Homo sapiens: one gene and its partner. Each later gene encodes a partner of the first gene's protein in a complex. Each region holds a gene or a part of one and is shown on either strand. Other genes may lie near its edges.

Region 1 (3,830 bases):
GACAATACATAGACTGGCTCTGTAAAATAATGTTATTGAGAGGTCGATCCCTCTGTTCTTTCATTACTACATGAGTGGTTGTCTTTTATGACTGGTTCTGTCCTCTTTCCCAACCCACAGAAGTTCTGGATTATGTACAGTGTCTTATTTGAGAGTTCTTTAGAAAGCTTGGATTATTCATGATGGCGTATTTTTTATTTTTGACTTATTCAAAAATTCATTATCTTTAAGATTGGTTTGCAAATTGCAACTTTTTTGTTAGGCAGCTTTTGGGGCCTAAAGACAACTGACAGTATATGATAGTCATGGGGTACTTGTTTTCCTGGATTCCTCTAAGGTCTTAACTCTTACAAGGGCAGGTTCCTTCCCTTGTTTTCTAAAGCTTAGGGAGTCAGCAGGAGTTATTACTGATATCTGGTCTTTTCCCTTTTTTTTTTGTATTGAGTTGCTTCATAAGGATTGCCTTTCTCCATTGATGCCAATTTAAAAGAATTTGTCAAATACTCTTCTAAATTTTGATACAAAGCTTTGAGATCTCGTCTAAATGCACTCATTTTTTTCTTCTTTTAAGTGTAATTCTTTGATATTTGTACACCAAGCTCTTTTTTCTTAGACACTTTCTTTGTTCCCTGCTATTCATCTTTCTGCTTTTAAAAAGGAAGGGATCGGCCGGGTGCAGTGGCTCACGCCTGTAATCCCAGCACTTTGGGAGGCCGAGGTGGGCGGATCACGAGGTCAGGAGATCAAGACCATCCTGGCTAACACGGTGAAACCCTGTCTCTACTAAAAATACAAAAAATTAGCTGGGCATGGTGGCAGGCACCTGTAGTCCCAGCTACTTGAGAGGCTGAGGCAGGAGAATATCGTGAACCCAGGAGGCGGAGCTTGCAGTGAGCCGAGGTCGTGCCACTGCACTCCAGCCTGGGTGACAGAGCGAGACTCCCTCTCATAAAAAATAAATAAATTAATAGGAAAGGATCTTTACCCTCACTCCCTTCATTACTCTTCATTAGCAATATAAATCTCTAGAAACTCTGTTATTAGAACCTTAGTTTCTATGATATTTGGTAAAAGTACTTTACTGGCTTTATTGTTATCATACAGAGGCACTGATTGTAGAAAGTAGGAGATTTAGTGTAGTGGGTGGCTGGATTTAATACAATTCACGGAGGCTTATATGGTACTGATTCTAATTAAAGGAGACGCAAGAAACTGTGTTTGGAAAATGTGAGACTATTTTGCGTACCTTGGATAAAGGTATACCAGGATGTCAGACTGTCACTTTGCAGCTATTACTTCATATAGTAGAAGCTTGGATTTGGAGTCAAAAAACCTGAAACTGAATCCTAGTTATATTATTTGTAACTCATTATTTGTGTGACCTCAGGCACAGGCCTTATCATTCAAAGCTTGTCTCCTAATCTATAGAATAGTGTTCTGTTAACACCCCGGGTATATCGTAGAGAAACAAATGAAAAACGGTGAAGTGTTAGGTACATGTGAAGAGTAAAGGATCATGTACCGAATCCCTCTGATATGGGAACCAAGGATGTTTCCTATTGTAGGATTCAAGGCATTTTCCGTCTAACTCAGGAGCGCTATGTAAATATCTATTTGTTGCAAGAAAAACATTATTGTAATGATGGGCAGCCATTATAGCCAATCCAATTGAATGATATTTCATTCAGCAACTGTGTGTCTATCTTGGGATATATGTATGAAAAAAGTAAGACAAAAGCTCCATTTGCATGGGGCTTACATCCTAGTGGGGGGAGGACAATAAATACTAAAAATAAGTGGTATGGATAAAAGAGGAAGGTTAGAGATATTGAGCTTGGGAGCATTAAAAAGGATAGTTCAAGTAGGCCTCATGAAAAAGGTGACATCTGAACAAAGGCTTGGAGGAGATGAGATAGCTGTGCAGCTTCTGGGGCAGTAATCCAGGAAGAGGTTTTTAGGTAGAAGCACACACGCAGAGAGAGTGGCAAGGAGCCCGGTGTGGCTGGAGAGTAGGAGCTGGAGAAGAGCCATAGGAAATGAAGTCAGAGTGGGGAGTATATCAGGTGGGGCCTTGGTGGCCTCAGTAAGGACTTTGGCCTTTACTCTGAGAGACTGTCTTTGGAGACTTCTCGTCAGAGGAGGAGTATGATCTGACTTAAATTTTTTGTTTACAGATGTAAGTGCTGATAATATTGTATAATGTTCTAATGCATTCTTTTTTGAAATGAAAATAAAGTACATAGTAGATAACATTTCTACAGATTAAATGGTAACTACATATTTTTTTTTCTTCTATTAAATCTAAGGTCAGCTTCCCCTTACCATGGTTTTACCATTGTGAATCGACTAAATATGCACAATCTAGTTGAACCAGTGAATAAAGATTTGGAATTTCAGCTCCATGAACCATTTCTTCTGTATAGAAATGCAAGCTGTGAGTATATCTGTTTTATTATAGTTATTACATTTAAAATTGAGTGACTTTAGTTTCTATCAATCCATTATTTAGGAAGTTTCAAATTACAAAACAAAATATGGTCTCTACTTAATGATTATAAATGAGTCTGTTGGAAAGATCAAACCTTTTAAACTGGGCTCTGAGGCCAGAGGTGGTGGCTCATGCCTGTAATCCCAGCACTTTGGGAGGCCGAGGAGGGCAGATCACTTGAGGTCAGGAGTTCGAGACCAGCCAGGCCAACATGGTGAAACCCCGTATCTACTAAAAATACAGAAAAAAATTAGCCGGGCTTGGTGGCAGGCGCCTGTAATCACTTGAACCTGGGAGGTGGAGGTTGCAGTGAGCTGAGATCGCGCCACTGTACTCCAGCCTGGGCAACAGAATGAGACTGTGTCTCAAAAAAATAAATAAATAAACTGGGCTCTGAAACTGGAAACATTCTTTTGTATATAATTTAGTTTACTATTTCATTTAATAGCACTACATTTCTGTTGTCGGTTTATTAAAATAAGGTTTATGCCTTTGTTTTTTTGCAGCTGTGGACTATCAGCTGCCCATGTCCCTAAGCAACAGAACTTAGTTTGGGACACACAGGATGGGAACAGATACAGATAATTCTTTCCACAAAGAAAGTATTATTATTACTATTATTATTTTCTTTTTTTTGAGACGGAGTCTTGCTCTGTTGCCCAGGCTGGAGTGCAGTGGTGTGATCTAGGCTCATGCAAGCTCTGCCTCCCGGATTCATGCCCTTCTCCTGGCTCGGCCTCCCAAGTAGCTGGGACTACAGGCACCCGCCACCACGCCTGGCTAATTTTTTTGTATTTTTGGTAGAGAAGGGGTTTCACCGTGTTAGCCAGGATGGTCTTGATCTCCTGACCTTGTGATCTGCCTGCCTCGGCCTCCCAAAATGCTGGGATTATAGGCATGAGCCACCACGCCCGGCCAGAAAATATTATTTTTGCCCAGAATAGTGGTGATGGGTTTTTTTTTTTAAGATATTTATTACTTTTTCTACTTTATTTTGTCTGAATATGTTTCTAAGTAAGGTTTTTCTATCTGTTTATTTAATTGAGTGTCTACTGGTTACCAGCACTGAGCCAAGAGCTGTGGTGCTTTAATGTTAACGATACAGTTACCTATGTGGTGTAAGCAGGCAGTTAAGTCAACTGAGACTCAGAGATGCATAACTATTACCCTGTTGGAGAGTTAGGATTATGACTATTCTTCTGCTTTTTAGTCCAGGGTTCTTTCAGGCATTTTTACAATCTCTAATAACGATTGGATGTAGTCAGCAAAGCTAGAGTGGCCCTTCCAAGAAACTACAGTACTAAAAAATATACTTGATTCCAGTGTATTAGTATGGATATTG
Region 2 (2,908 bases), on another chromosome or scaffold:
GTCATTAAATGTTGAAGGTATGGCCCAAAGTACAGCCCAGTGAAAGTGATTTGGGAAAGGACCAAGCTACTGAACTTTTTACTGAATGATTAGCATTATTGGATTTGAGGATAGAACAATAAATTCCTAGATCAATGCTCCTAAAATGCAGTATTGCGATATACTACTGGGTCATGATCTATTAATACCTTCCCCAGAGGTAATTATTATTCTGATTATCACCATGGTTAGGCTTACCTCGGAAGAAATGGAATAATACAATATGAACTTGCTTGTCTGGCTTCTTTCCCTTAATGTGTCTGTGAGATTCAACCCATTTGTCAGTGTACCAATTACTTATTGTATTGCTGTGTAATTTTCTGTATAGTATTATATGAATATAACACTATTCATTTTTCCATTCTCTTGGACATTTGGGTTCTTTCTGGTTATTGGCTATTATAAGCAAATCTTTTATGAACATTTCTGTGTATGTCTTTTGGTGGCTATACAAACTAATTTCTCTTGGGAATATACCTAGGATTGGAATTACTAGAGTATAGGTAGATGTATTTATCTGTAAGTAGATGCTGCCAAACAGTTTTCCAAAGTGGTCTGTTTTAAGATGTCCTTCAATTTGGGGATGATCAGAAGCTTTCCACACAGCACCCTTTACAAACAAAGATGCCTTTATGTCTTGTAATGGTTACTGGGGAAGAATGTTAAATAGTCATGTGTCTTTTGCTATTTTTCTCCTTTCTAGCATCAATTCCTGAAGATTGCCAAGCCCCTCTCCAGCCTCACTCCACTGATTGCTGCAGCTAAGGAGGCAACAAAGAACAATCACTAAAACCACACTCACCCCAGCCTCATTGTGCCAAGCCTTCTGTGAGATAAATGCACATTTCAGAAATTCCAACTCCTGATGCCCTCTTCTCCTTGCCTTGCTTCTCCCATTTCCTGATCTAGCACTCCTCAAGACTTTGATCCTTGGAAACCGTGTGTCCAGCATTGAAGAGAACTGCAACTGAATGACTAATCAGATGATGGCCATTTCTAAATAAGGAATTTCCTCCCAATTCATGGATATGAGGGTGGTTTATGATTAAGGGTTTATATAAATAAATGTTTCTAGTCTTCCGTGTGTCAAAATCCTCACCTCCTTCATAACCATCTCCCACAATTAATTCTTGACTATATAAATTTATGGTTTGATAATATTATCAATTTGTAATCAATTGAGATTTCTTTAGTGCTTGCTTTTCTGTGACTCAACTGCCCAGACACCTCATTGTACTTGAAAACTGGAACAGCTTGGGAATGCCATGGGGTTTGATAATCTGCCAGGGACATGAAGAGGCTCAGCTTCCTGGACCATGACTTTGGCTCAGCTGATCCTGACATGGGAGAACAACCACATTTTTCTTTGTGTGTGCTTCTAGCAGCTGTTCGGGAGGACCTTGACCCAATAGTGTTCCCATGCTGTTTCTTGTGAAATGCTCTCGGCTATGTAGCAGCTTTTGATTCCCTGCATACCCTAGGCTGCTGCCCCTATCCTGTCCCTTGTTTATAACATTGAGAGGTTTTCTAGGGCACATACTGAGTGAGAGCAGTGTTGAGAAGTCGGGGAAAATGGTGACTACTTTTAGAGCAAGGCTGGGCATCAGCACCTGTCCAGCTCTACTTGTGTGATGTTTCAGGAACTCAGCCCCTTTTTCTGCCTAGGATAAGGAGCTGAAAGATTAACTTGGATCTTCTAATGGTCCAAATCTTTTGGTCACAATAAAGAGTCTCCAAATTAGAGACTGCATGTTAGTTCTGGATGGATTTGGTGGCCTGACATGATACCCTGCCAGCTGTGAGGGGACCCCGTTTTTAAGATGCATGGCCAAGCTCTCTGCAAATGGAAATGCTTACACTGGGTGTTGGGGATGTTTGCTACCTCCTGCTATTTTTGTGGTTTTGGTTCTCCCACTATGGTAGGACCCCTGGCCAGCATTGTGGCTTGTCATGTCAGCCCCATTGACTACCTTCTCATGCTCTGAGGTACTACTGCCTCTGCAGCACAAATTTCTATTTCTGTCAATAAAAGGAGATGAAAATATTCTATTGGAGTATGCCTTTCTTTTTTCTCTTCGTTTTTTCTTTCCTTTTCTAATTTTTTATATGAAATAATGAGTAGTTTCTTCCTGAACCATTTGAGAGTGGTAAGTTGCAGATAGAATGCCCCTTTACCACTATATACCTGAATGTGTATTCTTTCTTTTTAACACTTTTATTTTAAATATAAATTAAGAGAAATGGGCCAAAACCATTTGTATTGTTTAAAGAATAATTATAAACACACTTGTATCCACCAAATCAAGAAATGGAACACTGACAGTAAGAACCTTCTCTATCTTGTCCTTCCTTTCTCATTATAGCCCCCACCTAAGAGGTAACCACCATCTTGACTTTTATTTAAATAACTTTCTTGCTTTTCTGTATACTTTCATCACATTCAGGTGTGTTCCAATACAAGTAGATTTTAGTTCGGCCAGTTTTTGAACTTTAAATAAACATATCATAATAGATATATTCTTTTGTGCCTGTTATTGTTTCCACTCAAGATTATGTTTTTAAAATATATGTACCTAGTTTGTGTGTAGCTCTAGTTCATGTATTATTCCGGCTGTAGGCACTTGAGAGGAAAGTTAACTTGTCCAAGATGAATTCCCTGAGGACTGGCCTCCCAAAGGATTTGGTTTTCTGCAGAACTCTATCATAATGGACTACAGCCAACTGCTCAAGGCAGTCATACCTGGTAGAATTCTCAGGTGGCTAATTAGGCCATGGGTCTATCACATCCTACAGCTACAACCATAAGGCTTGAGCCCCAGCTCTGATCACACCAGAGAAAATGCTTCTCAAAGATGGCACAACAGAGCTA

Evidence for each region.
Region 2: DCP1A (region 1) and PAK1 share a complex: the UniProt entries of both Homo sapiens proteins name them as parts of the cytoplasmic complex.

Annotation. Positions count from the first base shown.
Region 1 is NC_000003.12:53,340,748-53,344,577, reverse strand, and holds part of DCP1A (mRNA-decapping enzyme 1A), read left to right. Parts: intron 1-2,306; coding exon 2,307-2,434; intron 2,435-3,830. UniProt on the Homo sapiens protein: Necessary for the degradation of mRNAs, both in normal mRNA turnover and in nonsense-mediated mRNA decay. Removes the 7-methyl guanine cap structure from mRNA molecules, yielding a 5'-phosphorylated mRNA fragment and 7m-GDP.
Region 2 is NC_000011.10:77,321,195-77,324,102, reverse strand, and holds the end of PAK1 (serine/threonine-protein kinase PAK 1), read left to right. Parts: intron 1-742; coding exon 743-829; 3' UTR 830-948; coding exon of another isoform or gene 949-966; 3' UTR 967-2,086; downstream 2,087-2,908. UniProt on the Homo sapiens protein: Protein kinase involved in intracellular signaling pathways downstream of integrins and receptor-type kinases that plays an important role in cytoskeleton dynamics, in cell adhesion, migration, proliferation, apoptosis, mitosis, and in vesicle-mediated transport processes.